2 separate regions of the Homo sapiens genome follow, and region 2 is linked to region 1. Evidence: fine-mapped expression QTL. A gene starts in region 1. The other region holds a variant in brackets. All regions are shown on one strand. Distances are between the middles of the regions.

The links. PIP is the estimated chance that this variant, and not a neighbour inherited with it, causes the effect.
Region 2: its variant is the best candidate, but not a certain one, in a credible set for the expression of TRIB3 in left ventricle (GTEx, PIP 0.68).

The regions. Positions count from the first base shown.
Region 1 is chr20:376,353-388,084 of GRCh38, reverse strand. TRIB3 (tribbles pseudokinase 3) reads right to left here and starts at 7,325. Exons shown (of 4, transcript NM_021158.5): 1 at 6,916-7,325; 2 at 1-74. The coding sequence starts at 74. RefSeq lists an enhancer at 5,208-6,206 and silencers at 5,892-6,481, 6,752-6,861, 6,882-7,041.
Region 2 is chr20:709,205-720,936 of GRCh38, reverse strand. No RefSeq gene overlaps it. Among named protein-coding and RNA genes, the nearest start is that of SCRT2, 39 kb to the right of the region's middle. RefSeq lists an enhancer at 538-1,042. The variant G/A (reference allele first, on the strand shown) is at 6,741.

The DNA of each region.
Region 1 (11,732 bases):
AAGTTGTCATCCAACTCCAACCGCTTCTTCCTGGACAGGGAACCCGCAGGAGCAGCCAGAGGGGTGGCTCGCATCTGGTAAAAAGGAGAGAAAAGCACTAAAGTGAGACTGCTTGGTGGCCCCTCCTTTCCCCTGCTGGTGGGAGGATACGTGGCACAACATTTATAGGGGGTGATCTGGCAGTGTGTGTTAAAATGACAAAGTCACATATCCTTAACTGGGTGCCCCACTTCTGGGAATTTATCTTCCAGTTAAACTTCTCACAAAAAAATTAAATATAGTAAAGGCTGTTCATCAGAGCCTTGTGTCCAATAGCAAAAGCAGGAAATATCCCAAATGTCAGGCAGTAGAAAGCTAGTGAAAACATCATGGTATAGCCATACAGCAGAATACTACACAGCCCTGAAAAAGGACAAGGAAGCTCTCTATATACTGATGCGTACTGATCTCCAAGATGTATTAAGAGAAGAAAGACAAACACAGAATTACGTGTTATAGAATGCTTTTATGGTGGGTTTTTTTTTTTTTTTCCCCAAGAGATGTTGCCCACGCTGGTCTCAAACTCGTGGCCTCAAGTGAACCTCCCACCTCAGCTTCCTAAGTAGCTGGGACTCTAGTAGTGAACCACCACACCTGGCTATACTTTTATGTTAAAAAGAATATATATAAATATGTTATATATATGTATGTATTTGTTTGAATATCTATCATCTCTCTCTCTGAAAGGATGCACAAGATTAGGAGGAGACTCTTACTATTACAGTTCACTTGCAGCCTCGACCTCAGGGTTCAGGTGATTCTTCCACCTCAGCCTCCCAAGTAGCTGGGACTACAGGTGTGCACTATGATGCCTGACTAATTTTTTTTTATTCTTTGTAGAGATGGGGGTCTCCCTACATTGCCTAGGCTGGTCTCACCTGAGCTCAAGCAATCCTCCTGCCTCAGCCTCCCAAAGTGTTAGGATTACAGATGTGAGTCACCATGTTTGGCCGACTTTTATAGTTTTGAATTTGAGCCATGTAAATGTATTTCCTGGCCAGGCGTGGTGGCTCACGCCTGTAATCCCAGCACTTTGGGAGGCCAAGGTGGGCGAATCATGAGGCTGGGAGTTCAAGACCAGCCTGGCCAACATGGTGAAACCCTGTCTCTACTAAAAAATACAAAAATTAGGCCAGGCGCAGTGGCTTATGCCTGTAATCCCAGGTAGCAGCACGTGACCAAGGCAATGCCAAAGTGCAGCCCACGGCAGCACTTTGGGAGGCCAAGGTGGTGGATCATGAGGTCAGGAGTTTGAGACCAGCCTGGCCAACATGGTGAAACCCCATCTCTACTAAAAATAGAAAAATTAGCCAGGCGTGGTGGCGTGGGCCTGTAATCCCAGCTACTTGGGAGGCTGAGACAGGAGAATCACTTGAACCCGGGAGGTGGAGGTTGCAGTGAGCTGAGATCACACCACTGCACTTCAGCCTGGCCAACAGAACAAGACTCCGTCACGGGAGAAAAAAAAAATTAGCCGGGCGTGGTGGTGCATACCTGTAATCCCAGCTACTGGGAAGGCTGAGGCAGGAGAATCGCTTGAACCCAGGAGGCAGAGGTTGTAATGAGCCGAGATTGTGCCACTACACTCCAGCCTGGGTGACAGAGCAAGACTCTGTCTCAAAAAAAAGTATTTTGTAATCAGAAATGTACATTTAAGGAAATAAATACCTGCTTAAAAACACAGCTTGTTTCTAAAAATTATAGTTAAGAAAATCAACTAATCTCATAATCCATGGCTCTCGTACATTCACAGATGAGAGATATGATCTTGTTCATTCACTTAACACTGGGTGCTAGGAAGAGAAGTAGGTTAGACAGCAGTCTTGCCGTCAGGATCTTCCAGTCAATTTGGAGGGCAGATGAGTAATAAAATCACGTCCAAGGCTAGGTGCAGTGGCCCACACCTGTAATCCTAGCACTTTGGAAGGCCATGGTGGGAAGACTGCTTGAACCCAAAAGTTCAAGACCAGCTTGGGCAACATAGTGAGACCCTGTCTCTACAAAAAAAAATTTTTTTTTAATTAGCTGGGTGTGGTGGTGGATGCCTGTAGTCCCAGCTACTTGGGAGGCTGAGGTGGGAAGATTGCTTGAGCCTGGGAGGTTGAGGCTTCAGTGAGCCATGTTTGTGCCACTGCACTCCAGCCTGGTGACAGAGTAAAGACTCTCTCAAAAAAAAAAAAAAAAATCACATACAGTGTGATCAGCCCTACTATACAGAGAAGCATGGGCCTCTAGGAACCCAGAGAGGCCTCTCTCCTGGGCTGGTGGGTCAAGAGAGGTCTTCCTAGAAGAGGTGGTGTCTACACTGAGACCTGAAAGTGAGGCAGAGTTAGCCAGGTGACACGGAGAGTCATACTGCGGTTCAGTGGTTCTCAAACTTGAGCAAGCATTGAGATCATCTGGAGGCCTGTTTCAACATACATTGCTGGGCCCTACTCCCAAAGTAGCTCATTCAGAAGGTCTGAATCTGCATTTCTATCCAGTTCCCAGGTGAAGTTGATGCCGCTGTCCAGTAACCCCTGTTCTGGGGTGAGGGAAGAGGCAAAAGAACATGCTGCATGTTCCCCAAGAACACGGTGGAGAATGAGCGTGACTGCAAAAAAAAGTGAAAAGTTAAAAAAAAAAAAAAAATAGGCCGGGCGTGGTGGCTCACACCTGTAATCCCAGCACTTTGGGAGGCCGAGGCAGGCAGGTCACCTGAGGTCAGGAGTTTGAGACCAGCCTGACCAACATGGTGAAACCCCGTCTCTACTAAAACTACAAAAATTAGCCGGGCGTGGTGGCACACGCCTGTAATCCCAGCTACTCAGGAGTCTGAGGCAGGAGAGTTGCTTGAACCCAGGAGGCAAAGGTTGCGGTGAGCTGAGATAGTGTCATTGCACTCCGGCCTGGGCGACAAGAGTGAAACTCCGTCTCAAAAATAAATAAATAAATAAAAATAAGGTGAGGTTAGTAGAGGCCCTATTGTGAAGGGCTCTACGAGCATCATATGGCAGAGGTGGTTAGTGGTCCCCAGTTTCAGGTCTCCCCTCCTTACATAGGATTAGAACCTGAGATTTTCAGCTGAGCACAAGGACACCTAGAATAAACTGCATTTCCTGTCTCCCTTGTATCCTTGTATCAGCATATGGCTAGTAGGACACAAGTGGAAGTGTTGTGTACAATGCCCAGGACAGTGTTCTTAAAGGGAGGGCCCAACTTCCTCATTTCCTCCTTTCCTGTATGCTGGAATGTGGACCTAACTGCTGGAGCTCCAGCATCTACCTTGGCTTCAGAAGTACCACATACAGTAGAGCAAGAGAGGAGCCTAGGTCCCTGACACATGGAGTTGTCAGGCCAGACCTCCAGGTTTTTTACACAGGAGAGAAATAAACATCTATTGAAGGCTGGGCGCAGTGGCTCATGCCTGTAATCCCAGCACTTTGGGAGGCCGAGGCAGGCAGATCACAAGGTCAGGAGATCGAGACCATCTTGGCCAACATGGTGAAACCCCATCTCTACTAAACATACAAAAATTAGGTGGGCATGGTGGTGCATGCCTGTAGTCCCAGCTACTCGGGAGGCTGAGGCAGGAGAATCACTTGAGCCTGGGAGGCAGAGGTTGTAGTGAGCTGAGATCTCGCCACTGCACTCCAGCCTGGGGACAGAGCAAGACTCTGTCTCAAAAAAAGAGAAAAAGAAGAAAAAAACGTCTATTTCATTTTAGCTATTAAGTGGCTGTTTCTATATTACAGCTGAGCCTAATCCTAATTAACACACAATAGGATTTGGAATTATCCAAAGGCAGTGGGGAGCCACTGAAGGATTTCAGCAGGGGAACATCATGCTTTTAGGGTGGATTTGAAAGTACAAGACGGGGCAGTGAGACTAGCTAGGAGGCCCACACAAGCACGAGTCCAGGCAGGAGAAGGTGACCTGGACTAGGGGGTGCTAGATGGAGACGCGAAGTTAAGGGCTCATAGGAGGAAGATCAAGAGGACTCAGTGGCAGACTGGATGGACTGGATGGATTGGATGTGAGGGGTGAAGGAGAGGGTGGAATCGAGGTGAGGTCCAGCCTTTGGCTCCTGCAATGAGGAGGGATGATGGCTTCATGTCCTGAGCTGGGGGAGAAGCCTGTATTTTGGGGACTGTGGAAGAAAACTGTTAAGTATTTCAGACCCTTATGTCTTGGCAGTGTCATGAAAAGTGGGTTTATACTGTGGAATAGTGGCAGTGCAGCCACTAACAATGAAGACAGTGCTAGTGGGAGGATAAAAGGTACCACCTCTGAGGAGTGCATTTTGACAATATCAAAATGAAAAACAGGCTGGGTGCAGTGCTTCATGCCTGTAATCCCAGTACTTTGGGAGGCTGAAGCAGGAAGATCACTTGAGCCCAGGAGTTCAAGACCAGCCTAGGCAACGTAGCGAGACCCTGTCCCTAAGAAAAAAAAAATTATCTGGTCATGATGGCACACAGCTGTAGTCCCAGCCATGCAGGAGGTTGAAGTAGGGGAATCACTTGAGCCCAGAAGGTAAAGGCTTCAGTGAGCCATGGTCAGGAACTCTAGCCTGTGCAACAAAGTGAGACTGTCTCAAAACAAAGCAAAACAAAACAAAACAAAAACAACGATGAAAAGCGTGTGAGCTTTGATTCAGCAATTAATCCCATTGCTAAGAATTTATTCTGTAGAGGTGTGTGTGTGTAAGCATGCAAATACACAGTTATTCCTGCAGCCCTTTTGACAGAAATAATTGGCTGTCTATAATTACAGGGCTGGTTACATAAATTATACTTCATCCACACAACGGAACAATGTGCAGCCATTTAAAAGGTTGAGGATGCTCTTTATAGGGTAATTGGAAGGATCTCCAGAGTGAACTGTTAAGTGAAAGGAAAGCCACCATTCACGCAGCTGTGTGACTGTGTGTGTGGTGGCTGAAGGAGAGGGCAGTAGGGCATGGTCAGGGCAGACGGGTTCTCTCTAGAACCCATCTGCCCACCCACTTAAACTCCATTCCAAGGAGGTGCATGCCCAGGTATGGGCATTGGTGCGAGAGACCTCAGCCTGGTTAAAGACCTTCCCAACAGTTCAAGGCAGGATTAACAAGGCAACATGAGTCAGTTACCAGACAGAGGCCCACCTCTCCAAGTACGCTGCTCCCAAATGGAAGAGCTGCCTTGGAAGGGAAGGCCTCCCCACATGAGTGAAAGGTCATGACTTTGGCTTGGTAAGAATGCAGTAAGGAGTGGCTGTAGTCAGATATTCCTGGGTTCTAATCCTGTCTCAAACCCTTTCTAGCTGGGGGGTACCCCTGGTCAAGTTCCTCAAGCTTTCTGAGCCTCAGTTCCTGTAAAGTGGGAACAGGATGCAAAGCTTACAGGTTTTTCGTGATGATGAAATGAAAACACAAATGAAGCATGTAGAGCTTATGGACCTGTTGCCAGGTAGGTGTCAGGAAATGGTCATTATTAGCACTCATCCTGTTATTCTTCACAGCAAGATGCATAAGTACCATCCTTGGGAGTCTTAGAAAGCTCCCCAGGTTCGAGGCTGGGATGACACTCCTTACATCTCAAGGCTGTTCTGAGTCACGCAGGATGATACCTGGCTGTGCACATGCTTTGTGCCCTGTGCAGCAGGAGACTGCCTGGAGTCCCTCTGGCCTGTGCCACATCAGTAGTCCAGGCTGCCTTGGCCCCGGCCATCCCTCAGAGCCTGTTGGGGCCTGGGATAAGCTCCACCCAGATGGGGACAGATGCGGTAACTGAGTCTATACATCTTGGGCAAGGCATTTTGCAGACCACACTGCAGAATAGAATCTGTGATGTGGAATGAAAGCAGCCCCTAATATCTACCTCTTGCTGTTCCCTGCCACACTCGGGACCCAGGGAAATGAGGGCGGGTTACATCAAGCGCAAGCGCGCGCGCGCACGCACACACACACACACACACACACACACAGCCCTCCCAGCTGTCACACCCATGGTCTACCCGAGCAAGGCCGCACCCCCACCCCGCCCCGCCCCCCGCAGCCAGGCCCCTCCCGTGGGAGCCCAAGCGAAAGGCGGCGGGTGTCCGAGTCAGAAGTTTCAGCGGAAATTGAAGCGCGGCCCTGGGACAGGAGGGGGGTGAGGCAGAGGGAAGGAGGTGGCTGTCGTCCCCCGCCCTCCCCGGTCTGCAGGCACAGCACACACCGCAGACACGCGCGCACCGTCCACCTGCAAACCCGGAGCCGCGCACTGGGGAGAACCAGCGGCCCTGCCGGGCCAGAGATCGCGCGCTGCGCCCCCGCTCCCACTCCCTCGGCTCCCCCGCTCCAGGGCACCCCAGCCCTGTCCCGGCGGTGTCCCCTGCACCGCCAACCCCTGCCACCAAGTGCCCAGCCCTCCAGACAGCTCTCACCATCTCCTGAGACACAGGTGCTCGGGACCCACCCTCACCCAGGACTCTCCCCTGCGGGTTCACGAGGACCCCCTCGGATCCCCCGCCACCCCCAGAGTCCTCCAGTGCCCCCCACAAGCCCCTCACCGCACCACACGACTCCCCTATCCCGCACTCACGCAAAACAGACCCCCGCACGCCCTCCTCTAGGGGTGACGGCCGGACACCTCCGTCCCTGGCTTCCCCAGCCCAACTCGGGCGACCCCACGCTCCGCGGGGCCGCGTCACCTGAAGCCCGGGGGGAGCACTCAGCCCAGGCCCGGATCAAAAGGGATCTGACCTGGCCGCGCCCCGACGGCGGGGTCTGTGAAAAGGTGTGTAAGGGGCGTGCGTGCGTGTAACACGCGGCAACACGCAGACGCCCAGAGGCTTCCGGCGCCCCCTTCCCCGGCCGCCCCCTCCCGCCCCCCGGCCTCCGGGCGAGTCCGCAGGCCGCACCCCGCCGAGTACCTCGCCCCGTCGTTCCGCGTGGGCCCGGGCGCCGCCGGGGCTCAGAGCCTCCAGGGCACCAGCAGGTGGGCCGGCCCGCTGCGCTGCTGCCGAGCTCGGGATCCCAGCCCAGCTCCAGCCCTGCCCGGGTCCTAGCAGCGGACGCGCGCGGAGCCGCCTCCACTTCCGCTGCGAGTCTCGTGCGCGCCCGGCCCCCGGTCCGGGTGATGCAAACCGGAGCTAATCCCCCGGTCCGGGTGATGCAAACCGGAGCTAATCCCCCGGTCCGGGTGATGCAAACCGGAGCTAATCAGCCGCCGTCTGATGCCCTCGGGCCCGGGATCGCACCATCCCCCGCGCCGCGCCCGGGCCTCTCTCCTCTGCATCCGCTGCACCTGGGACCCGCCCTCGCTGGCCCCCTAGGGGCGTCTGGTCAGTGCAGACATCAGCCACGGACTCTCCCTATCACCTTGGAAAAAAAATTTGCTCTTTTTTTTTTTTTTTTTGAGACAGAGTCTTGCTCTGTCGCCCAGGCTGGAGGGCGGTGGCGCGATCTCGGCTCACTGCAAGCTCCGCCTCCCGGGTTCACGCCATTCTCCTGCCTCAGCCTCCCGAGTAGCTGGGACTACAGGCGCCCGCACCACGCCCGGCTAATTTTTTGTATTTTTAGTAGAGACGGGGTTTCACCTTGTTAGCCAGGATGGTCTCGATCTCCTGACCTCGTGATCCACCCGCCTCGGCCTCCCAAAGTGCTGGGATTACAGGCGTGAGCCACCGCGCCCGGCCAAAAATTTGCTCTTCTGAGCCTCGGTTTCCCCACCTATGAAATGGGAAGAACATTCCTCCTTCTCAGGATGGTGCTTAAAAGAGCAAACAGTGACTGTTGTCGGGGTGCTTCCCCTTTTTTATAAAGCACATTCCCAGCACTGCCTTATAAAACCTTTAGGAGAAGTGGACATGCGGGAATCTCCATTCTCCACATTCTACTGAGAGCCAGCCTGAGGCCCAGCTATGGGCAAGTGGTTCAGAAGCTTCAGGAAGGCCTATGGACTTAAGAGCTGACTCTGGGCTCAAAGGAACCACCGTGGCGCCCTTGGGAGGCCTAAGGTCTGCTGAGCTTCCCCGCGTCCCTTTGCTAGAGGCAGTGCGGCCTAGTGGTGAAGAGCCCCTAGAGCCAGCTGGCCTAAGAGTGCACTCCACCTCCGCTCCAACCCACAGTGCTACCCCAGAAAAGCTACCTAAAACCCTGCCTCAACTTCCTGCTCCATAAAATGGGCTCATAATTGCGCTCACTTCATAAAGTTGTTGTGAGGATTAAATAATTTAATATGTGTAAGACGCTTAGAACAGTGTGTGGCACATTGCGGATGCTCAGTGGAGTGTAAACAATGGAGACAGAGAGGGAAAGAGGCCTTTAATATGCTTGCACCCAAGGCCTGGGAGGGCTTGGTGCTACTTGATTTGGGGTGAAACACCCCTCTGCGTCCTAGGCGTCCAGCACCTTTCTTTTTTTTTCTTTTTTTGAGGCAGAGTTTCACTCGTTGCCCAGGATTGAGTGCGATGGCACGATCTCGGCTCACTGCAACCTCCACCTCCCGGGTTCAAGCGATTCTCCTGCCTCAGCCTCCCAAGTAGCTGGGATTACAGGCATGCGCTACTATGCCTGGCTAATTTTGTATTTTTAGTAGAGACAGGGTTTCTCCATGTTGGTCAGGCTGGTCTCGAACTCCTGACCTCAGATAATCCACCTGCCTCGGCCTCCCAAAGTGCTGAGATTACAGGCATGAGCCACCGCGCCCGGCCTGGGTCCAGCACCTTTCTTAGAAATCCCTTTTGATCTGAATTCACCAGTGTCAAAAAATAACTCCTCAGCTGGGTGAGCTGGCTCATGTCTGTAATCCTAGCACTTTGGGAGGCCAAGACGGGAGGATTGCTTGAGGCCAGGAGTTTGAGAACAGCCTGGATGACATAGTAAGACCCTGTCTTTACAAAGAGAAAAAGATAGCGGGCATGGTGGTACGAGCTTGTGGTCCCAGCTACTTAGGAAGCTGAGGTAGGAGGATCACTTGAGCCCAGGAGTTCAGGTTACAGTGAAACGTGATTGTGCCACTGCACTCCAGGTTGGGTGACAGAGTGAGATCCTGTGTAATAAATAAATAAGTAAGTAAGTAAAATAACTCCTCTAGAGGCTGGGCGTGGTGGCTTATGCCTGTAATCCCAGCACTTTGGGAGGCTGAGGCAGGTGGATCACGAGGTCGGGAGATCAAGACCATCCTGGCTAACACGGTGAAACCCGTTTCTACTAAAAGTACAAAAAATTACTAAAAATACAAAAAACACACCTGTAGTCCCAGCTACTCGGGAGGCTGAGGCAGGAGAATCGCTTGAACCCAGGAGGCAGGAGTTGCAATGAGCTGAGATTGCGCCATTGCACTCCAGCCTGGGCGACAGAGCAAGACTCCGTCTCAAAAAAAAAAAAAAAGTAAAATAAAATAAAATAACTCCTCTAGGCAGAGGCTGGATGGGAGGCAGGGTGGAGTCATATTTGTTTTCCTGTTTCCAAATCCCTGGGGACCAGCTCACCTGTGTCCCAGAGCCTTCAGGGTATACCAGGGCATTCTGGGATCTCATTTAATCCTGGCAACTCCCCTGCTGGGGAGGGGTGAATAAACTCATCCTCTATCCTGGGACACCGAAATGGTTAGGAAGATCCCACAGCTGTGAGGGGTGAAGAAAGGTGGGAGGGCTGTTTCCTGAGCACCCCTCTGAAGGTGTGCTGGGTTTGCTTGTACATTCCCAACTAACGTTGTTTTGTGCTGTGTCAGCCCCTGTTCTAAATGCTGGGGACTCAGCAGTGACCAGAATGATCCACCCCTGCTCTTACAAATCTTATAAATCAGTGGAGAGATAGACCATTATCAGGAAAATAAAATTAAAACCATGATCATTTAAAATAGATTGCATCATGCATTTTCTTGAATAAAATAGGAAAGACTTGTTCTCCGTCATGACTGAGGGTGGCCATTTTCAGCAGGGCTTATCAGAAAGGTGATGTTTAAACTAAAAGCTGAGGGAAGAGAAGGGGTGAAGAGTGCAAAGATGTGAAAGGGAGACAGAGAAAAACAGTAAGTCACCTCCATTCTGCAGACAAGAAGAGTTAAGGTAAGGGACCTACCCAAGACCACCCAGCTGGTCGTATAAGACTGATTTCAGGCTGGGCGCGGTGGCTCACGCCTGTAATCCCAACACTTTGGGAGGCTGAGGCAGGCGGATCACCTGAAGTCAGGAGATGGAGACCAGCCTGGCTAAGGTGGTGAAACCCGGTTTCTGCTAAGAATACAAAAATTTAGCCGGGCGTGATGGCATGTACCTGTAATCCCAGCTACTCGGGAGGCTGAGACAGGAGAATCGCTTGAACCCAGGAGGCGGAGGTTGCAGTGAGCCAATTGCGCCACTGCATTCCAGCTTGGGCAACAAGAGTGAAACTGCATCTCAAAAAAAAAAAAAAAACAAAAAGACTGATTTCAGATTTGAACTTGGGGCAGCTGACTCCAGTGCCCATGCCATCCTGGGATATTTCACGAGCTTTGTATCCCTGCAGCCTCCACATGGACCTATGGGTATCGTGACAGGAACGGCACCCTGGGTATGGCCCCCAAATTTTGGTGACTTGTCACAGCTGGGTTTGTCAAATCCCAATTCTCTAGACCATTCTGTGTTCCAATAGAAATATAATGTGAGGCTGGGCGCAGTGGCTCATGCCTGTAATCCCAGCACTTTGGGAGGCGGAGGTGGGTGGATCATGAGGTCAGAAGATCAAGATCGTCCTGGCTAACACAGTGAAACCCTGTCTCTACTAAAAATACAAAAATTTGCCGGGCATGGTGGCACACACCTGTAATCCCAGCTACTCGGGATGTTGAGGCAGGAGAATCACTTGACCCCGGGAGGCGGAGGTTGCAGTGAGCCGAGATCATGACACTGCACTCTGACCTGGGCGACAGAGTGAGACTCCATCTCAAAAAAAAAAAAAAAAATTAAAATATTCAATAAAATAAAAAATTCTCAGTCACACTAGCCACATTAGCCATACTTGAAGTGCTCAATAACCACATGTGGCAAATGGCTACTGCTATGGTTTAAATGTGTCCCCCAAATGTCATGTGCTGGAAACTTAATCCCCCAATGTGGCAGTACTGAGCGGTTGGGACTTTTAAGAAGTGATTGGATCATGAAGCCTCTGCCCTTATGAATGGACTAACCCACTCATGGATTAATGGATTTGTGGGTTTTCACAGGAGGAGAACTGGTGGCTTTATAAGAAGAGGAAGAGAGACCAAAGCATAGCATGTCAGCATGCCCAGTCCCCTCTCCACGCTATACCCTGTGCCACCTCCAGACACTTCAGAGACCAGGAATAAGGCCCTCACCAGAAGTGCCCCCTCAATCTTGGACTTCCTATCCTCCATAGCTGTAAGGAATAAATTCCTTTTCTTTCAAAATTGTTCAGTTTCAGACATTCTGTTATAAGCAACAGAAAACAGACTAAAACCACTACCATATTGAGCACTACCACCCTGTACCAAGAATTCCTAACACATGGTCCAGGGGTACAGCAGAGGCAAAGAGTCTAGGTAGGCTGGAGTTTGGCTCCTAGATCTACACCAGAAACACCAAATAGCCTCAAGCCTCAGTTTCTGCATCTATAAAATGCAGTTAATTATACCTCCCTTGCATTGCAGTCATAAGGATTCAATGCATTGGGACTGCCTCATGTCATAGTTGTATCACATTTCTTGGGTTCAAAACCACATCTATTTTGGAAAAGTTACTTCAGC
Region 2 (11,732 bases), 330 kb before region 1:
AGTTGTGGATGGGACACAGTCTCTCTTCAAGAAAAAGCTTGTCCTTCAGCAGCAAGGAGGGCAGCAAGGTGACAGCCTCCAGCTGCAGCTCCTCCAGGAGCCGCCTTGGCTTTGGAACTGAGGCCATGTTCTTCCCAGGTCGTCCCAGCCAGACTGAGCTAGCAGAGGCACCAGGGCCTGGCCATTTCTGCCCCATGTGGGGCTTCTCTGTGGATAATCTTTACTCCAGAGACCCCTAGAGGGTGACTCTGCAGGCCCGGGCTGTGGTCTGAGGCTCTCCTGGCCAATTCCATTCCCTCCTGCTTTGTGTTTCACAGGTAGCAGCCCTCACTAACCCCCTTGCCCTCCTAACTCTCTCCCAGCACCAGCACCGAGGGGCACCCAAACTGAAAGGCTGCTCAATGGAGCAGTGGTTCTCAAAGTGTGTCCCAGAACCCCCAGCATCAGCATCAACCAGGATCCTGTAAGACATACACATTCTCAGGCCACACCCTACATTTAGAGATGGAAATGCCTGGAAATCTGCATTTTAACTGATCCTTCCAATGCACTCAACTTGGAGAACTGCTGTCACAGAGGACAACAATCAGTAAGATATGCACAGCAGTGTGGCCAGGGTGTGTGTGTGTATGTGTATGCACGCACACGTGCCTGTGTGTGTTTTGTGGGAAGGGGAGAATGTTTATCACAGCCTCAGCAATTTACCACCCCCCAAGGCCCTCCCTCATTTATTTCAAGAACCCCGAGGGCTAGGCCAACAAGCCTCCCTCCCTGCCCATTCAGGAGGAAGGTCCAGTCCCAACCTCCAGCTGGAGACTCTGCAGGCCCAGTCTGTGAGGCTGCACATAAGCCCAGCCTTCTTTCCTCCTGCTCCTACGCTCTCTCCCCGCCTTCCTCCCCAGGGGCACCCAGCCCCAACCGCCCGCCTCCTCTTTGTCTGCCAATCTGTCTCCATCCCGTGATGAGCTCCCGGCCTCAGCCAGCCAGTCTGTGCTCCATCTTCAGGATGGAGAGTGAGGCCTCGATGCTCCCAACTACTTCCCACTCACCCTGGTGAAAGGTCACTGAGAATGGTTCATGCCACCAGCTTCACTTCCGCCTCCCAACCCGTCGCCCAGGTGGAGACCCTGCCCAGTCTAGGCCAATAATCGCATCTCCTGATGGATAGGAGACATCCTATCCATCCTATCTTCAAGAAAAAGCTTGTCCTTCAGCAGCAAGGAGGGCAGCAAGCTGACAGCCTCCAGCTGCAGCTCCCCCAGGAGCCGCCTTGGCTTTGGAACTGAGGCCATGTTCTTCCCAGGTCGTCCCAGCCAGACTGAGCTAGCAGAGGCACCAGGGCCTGGCCATTTCTATCCTATCCTATCCTTAGATAGGGAGACATCCTCCCTATCTAAGACACTCAAAACCTCATTATGTGACAAGAGAGGACAAAGGGGACAGAGGTGCAGAGGCTTGCCCAGGGTCACATACCAAGAGAGGGGAGCAGCCAGGAGTTGGCCCCTGCTCTCTCCTTCCACCTCAGATTCCAACTCCCAGGCCCTGGCAGGTGGCAGGTGATGGTTCTGAGGTGGTCACGTGTGGCGGGGACACTGTTGGCCCTGGAAAACCAAGACCTTTGTGAACTCACAAAAGCAGCACGTGCTTCTTTCTCTAGTGGGCGTGGTGGTCCCTGTCCTGCTCACCGATGCCACAGCCCTGCAAATAAGGCTCAGGCAGGGGGACACTGCCTGTGGGTCACATGGCTGCCTTCCCTTTTCTAAACTGTCAGTAGGTGATACATCAGCACCTTCCTTCATGATGCCCAGCCCATCCCTCATCCTGCCCCACCTCAAGGAACCCTGGAATGTCAGGGCCAGAATAACAGTGACAGTTATGACAGATTACTTGCTATGTGGCAGGCATGACTGGCAAGTGCTCCAGACATCATTGTATTTATTTATTTATTATTATATTTTTTATTTTATTTATTTGTTTTGAGACAGAGTCTCACTTTTTTGCCCAGGCTGGAGTGCAGTGGCTCAATCCTGGTTCCACTGCAACCTCCACCTCCCGGGTTCAAGCGATTCTCCTGCCTCAGCCTCCCAAGTAGCTGGGATTACAGGCGCCCGCCACCACACCCGGCTAATTTTTGTATTTTTAGTAGAGACAGGGTTTCACCATGTTGGCCAGGCTGGTCACGAACTCCTGACCTCAAGTGATCCACCCGCCTCAGCCTCCCAAAGTGCTGGGATTACAGGCATGAGCCACCGCGTCCGGCCCATCATCGTATTTCATTCTCACCAGGAGCGCATGACAGACATGCAGCTCTCAGCCCACTCTACTGACATGGACATAAAACTCAAAGAGACAAAGCACTTTAACTCCAACTGCGCTAGACCAACTCCTCCATTTGATAGATGGGGAAGCTGAGTCCCAGAGAGGTGACATGATTTCTCCAAAGACACACACTAGTCAGTGTCAGAGTCAGCCTTTTCCAGGCAGCTTACCCCCTGAGAGTGACCATAGTTCACTCACACGCCACTTTAGAGTTTGTCAAGCTCTCCTCTCCTCTCAGGAAGGGAAGGGTTTCTTTTGTTTAATGGTTCTCACTCTGGGATGCTTATATGATGTGCCAAGCAAGCATGGTTTGAAAGCTTTGTAAACATTAACTCATTTAATGCTCACAAATACCCTATGATGCAGATATGTTTATTGCCCCCATTTTGCAAATGAGGAAACAGGCACAGAGAGCTGGAGTAAACTGCCTAAAGTCACACAGCCAAGATTCAAATCCAGGCTGCCTGAGGTATTAACTACTATGATGTTCTGCCCTTTTTACTGCCAAAAAAGCCTGAGGCTCAAGGAGAGGACATGACTTGCATGAGGCCACACACTAGAGTGGTGGTGGCTGGACTGGAGCCCAGGCGTCCTGCCTCCACGCCCAGCGCTGGCTCTCCACCCCCCGCCCCACTCCACGGGGCTCTTTCTCACTCTATGTTGATTCACAAACATCAGTTGGGAGCCTTCTTTGGCCAGGAGGTCTGCCTCAGTTCCCCTACCTAACAGGTGAGGCAAACAAGAAACAGACACCTAAAAAACAAATGGATAAATGGGTTCATGGAGGTACCAGAGGCAGCTGTGGGAGTACCAGGCAGGACACAGAGCCACCCTGGGAAAAAGAGAAGGCTTCTGGAAGTCTGATCCTTGAGTTGAATCTCCAAGTTCAAGTGGCACCCTTTCCGGAAGGACAGAATGGAATAGGGCATCCCAGACTGAGGAAACAGCACGTGCAAGGGTTGGGGTATGGGAGAGTGTAAATTGTTGTGAAAAGTACTGTTCAACCCCACGCAAGGGAGGGCACAGAAAAGGCTGTCCTGGAGGATCATGGAAAGAGTCTCAGAGAGTCAGAACGCGGGAGTCCTGACCACAAATCTGCCCTGTCTCACAGTGACCTTGGTATTCCCATCTGTAAAATGGATTGATATCTAAGCACTCTGCCAGCTCCATCCTTCAGCTGGTGGAGTTAGGATGGCTTTGAGTAGGGGGCTGGTTTTGATGTGAGGGCAGAAGGTAAGGGAGGAAAGGCATTCTGGAAAGGAGGACCTGTAGGAGCAAAGGTCCAGAGAGAGAAAGTGCAGAGCAGGCATTAGAAATGGTAAGGACGGCCAAACACGGTGGCTCACGCCTGTAATCCCACTACTTTGGGAGGCCAAGGCAGGAAGATTTCTTGAGTCCAGGAGTTCAAGACCAGCCTAGACAGCATAGTGAGACCCTGTCTCTATGAAAAAAAAAAAAATAGCTGGGCATGATGGCAAGCACCTATAGACCCAGCTACTTAGGAGGCTGAGGCAGAAGGACTGCTTGAGCCCAAGAGGTCAAGGCTGCAGTGAGCTGTGATTATGCCACTGCACTCCAGTCTGATCAACAGAAAGAGACCTTGTCTCAAAAAAAGCAAGCAAGCAACGGTAAGGAGAGGATGTAGCTGCTGTTGATGGTCCATTGGATGGTGCAGACAGGGGACACATATGAAGAAGTTGTATCAGTCTGGACTCTTCAGTTAGAAGTGAAAGAAATAAAAAAAAAAGTAATTATTAATTTATATAACTGAGAAGCCCAGGGCACTGGCTTCTGTTATGGCTGAATCCAGGTGCTGACATGTTACTGTGAGGATCCTGTCTCTCTCTCTATCATGGCTTTGATTTCTTTCTTGTAGGCCTCACTCTCAGGCAGCCTGTAACCTCATGGAGGCAAAGGTGGCCACCACTACCTCTGGAATCCATCACACAAACTACACTTCTGGTGGAAAGGCTCCCAGTAGCCCCACAAAAACCTCAGAAGCAGCTCTTGCCAGACTTACTTCCTAGAATTGTCATGAAGATTAAAGAAGTTAATAGAGCTTAGCCCAAGCTCTGGTACACAGCAGGTCCTCAGTCTTTGCTGTAGCTCAGCCAGAGAACTTGACATTATCCTGGACTATTCTCTGTCTTCACATCTAACATTAGATCTGTTTGCAAATCTTATTGGATCTACATATAAAAGAGATCTAGAATGCATACAGTTCTTCCCACCTCCACTGATAACAGTCTAGTCCAAGCCACCTTCATCTCCCTACTTTGTTTTCTAAGTTTTATATGTATATAGTATATTTATATAGTAATATATTCATGTATTCAATTCAATTGTGAACACAATTTAGACGTGTACATCCAGCTCAATGAATCTTCACACAGTGAGCAGATGATGTAACCTCCCTCAGATCAAGATACAAGACACCGACAGCACCCCAGAAGCCTCCTTCATCCCCGCTCCTAGTTATTCACCCCCTTGGTAGTGTGTCCTTTCATGTGTCTGAGTCACTAGCATTCACCTGGCTTAGTGCACTGGTTCCCAGCAAGTCTCTGGCTTTCTCTCTTGCCCTCTTATCCCTTTCAGTTAATCCAATCGATTCAGAGATCCTGTAAAAGATGTCCTCCCTCTGCTCAAAATCCTCCCATGGCTCCCATTTCATTTGGTGTAAAAGCCAAAATCCTCTCCATGGCCTGCAAGGTCCTACACAAGCTGACACCTCATCCCTCCCTCTCCCCACTTTCCCCACATAACTCTCTGCTCCAGCCATACGTGCTCCCTTCCTTCCTCAAACACACTACCCGCACTCTCAGCTATACACGCAGGAGACCATTGTACTTGCTGTTCACACTGCCTAGAATCTCCTTCCTCTCCCCACTCCCATATCCTCTTGGTTCACTCCATCAACTCCTTCAAGTTTGTGTTCAAATGTCACCTTCTCATATCTGCTTCCACCCAAGATGGAGTATCAGAAACTGAATTTACTCTCCTGCTTGAAACAATCAAACAAACAAACCAAACCAGGCAAAATACATGAAACTGTAATTTTTAAGACTCTAGGCAACAGGCAATAAAGGATCATGATCCCTGAGAAGTGGGAAATAAGATGAACCCTATCATGGCCTCAGTTTGCCGCTTGGAGAGAGTTTTCAGAACCTAGTGCAGGGAGGAGGAACCCAGGCAGCACCCAGGAGGCTTCCTGAGTTAAGGAAATAGAGTTGAGAGTCCAGGAAGGACAAAGAGGGCAGAGTTTGCAGGACACAGTATTGGGAGGAAAGAGTTGCACAGAGAGACTATTCCAGAGATATGAAGAAAGTCCCCCTTGAGTATTAGACTGAGTACTGGTTGGTGCTTTTGTATGATAAAACTACACTGAAGTAGGGGTGAAAATCATCTGATAAGATTAGAGAACAGTGCTCAGCACTCACACAAAACCAGAAATATTAATAAACAGAAAAAACCCTCATAATTTCTGGGGTACTGGGTAGAGTGCTCAGGAAGGTCTTTTCTCAACAGTGGTATATAATTAGCCCTCAACAGATAGCACTGCTCTGGACCCACTCAACAAATTATAAAAGCAAGACTAGGAAGGATAAAACTGTTTCCAAGTAACTTAATTGCATCTTAGAGCAAAACTGAAGGAGATTTATAGAAATATAAAAGTGTACAGCACCCAACAAGGGTAATGTTCACAATGCCTGGCATCCAAAGTTTACCATGCACGTAAATAAGCAAGAAAACATGGCCCATACAAGAATAATAATCAATCAATTGAAACTGACCCAGAACTGATACAGAAGTAGGAGATAAGAGCATTAAAATAAGTATTCAAATTGTATTTCATGGTCTGCATGTTCAAAGGTTAAGGAGAGACTTGGAAGATATAAAATGACCCAAACTGAACTTCTAGAAATGATAACTACATGTCTGAAATGAAAAATATGCTGATGTGACAGAAGAAAAGATTAGAGAATTTTAAGATGTAGCAATAGAAACTACCCAAAATCGACGACTCAGAGAAAAAGAAAGAATCCAAAAAACCAAGAGTATTAGGAGCTATGGAACAACTTCAAGAAGCCTAATATATGTGTCTTTGAAGTCCCCAAAGGAGAGGAAATAGAAAATTAATGGCTGAGAATATTTCATATCTGATATAAACTATAAACTCACAGATCCAAGAAGCTTAACGAACCTCAAGCACAAGAAACAGGAAGGAAATTACCCACCATGAACGAATTGCTCAAAACCAGTGACAAACAGATAAATATTAAAAACAGTCAGAGAAAGAAAAGCCTTGTAAAGTATAGAGAAACAAAGATAAGGATAATGGCAGATTTCTTGTTGGACACAATTTAAGGAAGAAAATAGTGAAGCAACAACATCTTTTAAGCTAATGAAAGAAAAAACCTGCC[G/A]ATCTAGAATTCTATACCCAGTTAAAATATCTTTTAAAAATGAAGATGAAATAAAGATGATTTCAGACATACAAAAGCTGAATGCATTTGTCACCAACAGATCTGCACTGCAAGAAGTGATAAAGGAAATCCTTCAGGCAGAAGGAAAATGATACCAGATGGAAATCTGGATCTACATAAGGGAATGGAGGTCACCAGAAGTGTTAACTACATGAGTTAAATATATAAAATCTTTTCTGATTATTTAATTTAAAAAAAGATAACTTAGCATTTAAACAAAAATAATAACATTTTGTGGAGTCTGTCACACATATGTATGTATGACAACAACAGCAAGAAGGCCAGGAAGGAAATGAAAGTATACTATTACATGATTTTCTTTTTGAGTCTTGCTCTGTCACCCAGGCTGGAGTGTAGTAGTGCTATCTCAGCTCACTGCAACCTCTGCCTCCCAGGTTCAAGCAATTCTCCTGCCTCAGCCTCCCGAGTAGCTGGGACTGTAAGCATGCACCACCATGCCTGGCTAATTTTTGTATTTTTAGTAGAGACAGGGGTTCACTATATTGGCAAGCTGGTCTCAAACTCCTGACCTCAGGTGATCCGCCCACCTCAGCCTCCCAAAGTGCTGGGATTACAGGTGTGAGCCACCGTACCCAGGCTTATAAGGCCTAATGTAACTACTAAGATAACAAACAAAACATTACAGTTAATAAACCAACAGAGAAGGTAAAACGATATAATAAAAAAGGAGGAGTTAAAATGAAATAGTAAAAAAAACTGAGCTTATACAAAAGAAGACAGAAAAAGAAGAAAAAGGAAGCAAAGAACAGATGGGACAAAAATAAAACAAATAGCAAGATGATAGACTTAAATCTAACCACGTCAATGATCACATCAAATGTAAATGGTCTAAATACCCTCAATTAAAAAGCAGAGATTGTTAGATTGGATTTTTTTAAAAAAATAAGACCCAAATATTGTTTTTTTTAAAAAAAAAAAATAAGACCCAACCTTCAAAACGGCACACCTTAAGTGTAAACACACAAGTTAAAAGTACAAAGATGGAAAGTAACAGTAATCAAAATAACACTGGAGGAGTAGCTAGTTTCATATCAGACAATGTTTGTTTCAGAGCAAAGAATATTACCAGGAAAGATAAGGTCATTTTATAATGATTAAAAAGGTCAAGGCTGGGTGCGGTGGCTCACGCCTGTAATCCCAGCACTTTGGGAAGCCAAGGCAGGTGGATCACAAGGTCAGGAGTTTGAGACCAGCCTGACCAACATGGTGAAACCCCATCTCTACTAAAAATACAAATATTAACTGGGCGTGGTGGTGCACACCCGTAATCCCAGCTACTCAGGAGGCTGAGGCCAGAGAATCTCTTGAGCCCAGGAGGCGGAGGTTGCAGTGAGTCGAGATTGCGCCACTGCACTCCAGCCTGGGCGACAGAGCAAGACTCTCCATCTAAAAAAAAAAAAAAAAGGTCAGTTAATCATGAGCATATAACAATTCTAAATATTTATGCCCCCAATAGCAGAGATTCAAAATACATGAAGGAAAAAGTGAATGACCTGCAAGGAGAAATAAATCCACCTTATCAACTGAGATTTCAAATCTCCATAACTGAAAGCAGAAAGAAAATATTGTCACTTTCTTAGTGAGTCCTGCCTTGACTCTCAATTTCAATTGCACCTTCTAAAATAACATTTATTTATTTATTCATTTTTATCTATTTATTTGTATAATGTCTAGAATGGTGTCTGGCGCTTAGAAAATTCTCAAAAAAAAAAACTGTTAAATAAAACCAAGGTCAAAAGGATGTTAATTGCTACTATCATGACTAGTATTATGTGACTCTGCACATAGTCTTTCTCTATTGTTATTTGAATGGGTAGACCCCAACAAAATTAATACTGAAGACTCAATCTAGAACATAAGGGCGGAAATCAGAACTTCACCATATTCGTGTAAGATGCATAGGATGGGAAAATTCTAAAAAGTCAGAAGAATACAATGTTAGAATGTAGGATGCTTAGGGGCAGAACATCAGAATCAGAGACCAGAGTTGATGAGGAAACTAACCCTGCTATGCATGGGGTGGGAGTAGGGGTTGGTCAGAGCCAAACAGCACTTTCTAAAATCCCACCTGCTGGTTCTGGGTGTCTCCTAACTCTAGTATCCATAAGGAGATGTCCATCCTGCTAACCCAACTAACCCAGCTCAGCAAGGCAAAGAGACTGAGAAACTATTCACCCATGGCTTCAGGAGCAGCAGGAATGAAGGGAGTAAGTGGGGAGGAACAGGAAGGGGGGAAGGGAGGCCGTATTTTCCATTTTAATTCAGCTCCTGCTCACCAGGCCCCTTCTGGACTGTGGGCTCATGAGGCATCGTGGTCATGCAAGACTGGAGTATGTCATTATCAGAGGGAAACACTACTGCCACCACCTCAGGGCTAGGGGCAGAGGTTGCAGCAGTCTGAGGCCTGCCCATCTTCCCAGGGACCCTGCCCCATGCAACAGAACTGGCTGGAGGCTGGGTCCTAGTGGGTGGGGACATGAGGCTACTTAGGGACCTAGTTCCCTAGACCCAGGAGTGTGGCCCTTTCCTGCCCAGGCAATGATACACACTGTATTGGGGATGAGGGTAGGGGTCTGGCAAGTAGGGCCCACCCTCCTAATCAGGTGCCCTGCTTTGTTTTTATCTAAAGCTCATGTCACCTAGTGACCTACCTCATGTCTTACATGTTTATTTTATTTCTCATTCATCTTCCGAAGGAGACTGCGAGTCTGTGAAGGCAGCCAAGAACTCTGCTCTGCTCACGGTTGTCCCTAGCACCTAGGGACGCTACCGTGGACTCCGCACACAATAAGCGTGCCAGCCATGCTGTTCTTGGATGGAAGAGATGAAGCTGATTTCCCAGCCCTGCACACAGGGATTCTTCGCACACTGGATCACACCCTTCTTGTAGAAACTAGTGAAGGCTGTGCCTTCTCTACCCAAAAACTCACACAAGTCATATGCTGATGAAGACACTTCTCAAAGACCATAGACACACACACACACACACACACACCCAGCCCCAAGCTCAGCACAGACCACAGGTTTTTTGCCAAGCTTCACCCTACCGCCAGCTGTGAGATGAAACTCAAGGGCCTCTTTCCAGCACCAGCCATTTTTGGTTTTCCCTGTGCCCCTCCAAGGAAAATCACAGAAAACAGCAAGAACCAGCACTTGTGAGCACTCACCGTGTACCCAGCACTGCGCCAACACGGTCTCAGCCCATCACCTCCACCGCCCCGGGCGCAGGGTGGTTACCTGACGCAAATCCTCAACGGCGAGTAGGGAGAACTGTTGGAACCCCTTTCTGAACCACCACGCTATTGGCCTCTAAAATAGGCCCAGATTTATCCTGCCTTTGGGCCTCTGGTTTTCAACACTACCTGAATCACAGGCTACCTTTCTGAGGCTGGGTCAACTGCTGGCAAAACCCCAGAAAAATGCACAAAGAGACACTGTCAGGCAAATTCCCAGGCCTCTCCCTCCCACCTCCCACCTCCCCTAACCCCCACCCCCAGCCATGGGAGCCTGTAGATCCCCAAGCCAATAACCAGGCGTTAAGCACCTGCGGTACGAGATGGGTGGCAGGGTCCCCCTCTTTTCTGGACACCGCTGGGAACCCTCCGCCCCACAATTCTTCAAACTGCTGCTGTGCTTCCCCCCCACCTTCTTAATTAATACCGCACTGCTTGACAGGGCGGCCCCGCGTGCGAGTGGGCGTGCGCGCGCGTGTCTGGGGGCTGGGTGGGGGGGCCGGGGGGAGGGGGTGCTGGCTGCCTGCCCAAGAGCGAGACCCCGCCCCCAGCCCCCGGCCGCTGGAGGATTGTGAAGCTCAAACAGATGGACCGAGCCAAGGGGCGGGGGCGCGCGGATGGGGTGCGAGACGGCAGCGCGGCGGCCGGGCCTGCGGGCGCCCTGACAAAGGCGGGGCCGCGCGGCGAGGGGCGCCTTATCTGCGCCAGCAGACCGGGCGGCCCGGGGGGCGCCCACGGCCCACGCTCGGGCGCACAAAGGCCCGGGGCCGGGAGGGGGTGTGGGGGGCGCGAAGATTAATTGCCCAATCAAGTTGTCGGCGCGGGGCGGGGGCGCGGGCCTCGGCCCCGGGGGACGCGGGACGGCGCATAATGAAGTGTGCGAAAAGTTAATTTGCTCCGCGACTCGCTGCTCACCACAATCAAAGGCGGGCGGAGGGGAGCGGAGGACCGAGCAGTGTCCCCCCCACCATCCCCTCCCCCGACCCCAGCTCGTGATCCAAAGGCAGGATGAGGGGGTCACAGGGCACACGGAGTGGAGGACCGAGCAGTGTCCCCCCCACCATCCCCTCCCCCGACCCCAGCTCGTGATCCAAAGGCAGGATGAGGGGGTCACAGGGCACACTCCCACAGCTGGGGGCGGAGGTCACCAGACGTGCGCCCTACTCCCCCTTCCTCCCGCTGTGAGTCTCCCGGCAGGTCCCGTTCCCTCTCTGAGCGCCACTCTCCTCTCCTGGACTCACAATGGTTGACATTTCTGGAGCACTCACGCTGCTGGGCACAGTGCCAAGCGACCGAGCGTTTCCCTGGCGTCGTCTCCTTTTATCTCACAACCTGAGGACATAACGCCTGTGCGCATCCGTTTTAAACCTAAGGTACAGAGAAGCCCGAGAAGTACTCCAAGGTCACAGGGCTCTTACCTAGCTCAGAGCCTTAGGTGGAAAACAGCACGGTGGAAAGGGTCAAAGACAAAATACACGGAAGAATTGGGGTTGATGGTATTATTCATGCTATTGCAACAGGGAGAGCATCCCAGATCCCAAAATCAGAGTGTCTGGACAGGATGGATTTGCCTTTGACTTTTGTAGGGGTGAGGAGACAGGTTACAGCAGGAGGGATTTAAAGTGGGGATTGTCTTACAAATAGGGGATATCTCCATCAGTCCATTGAAGAGGAAATG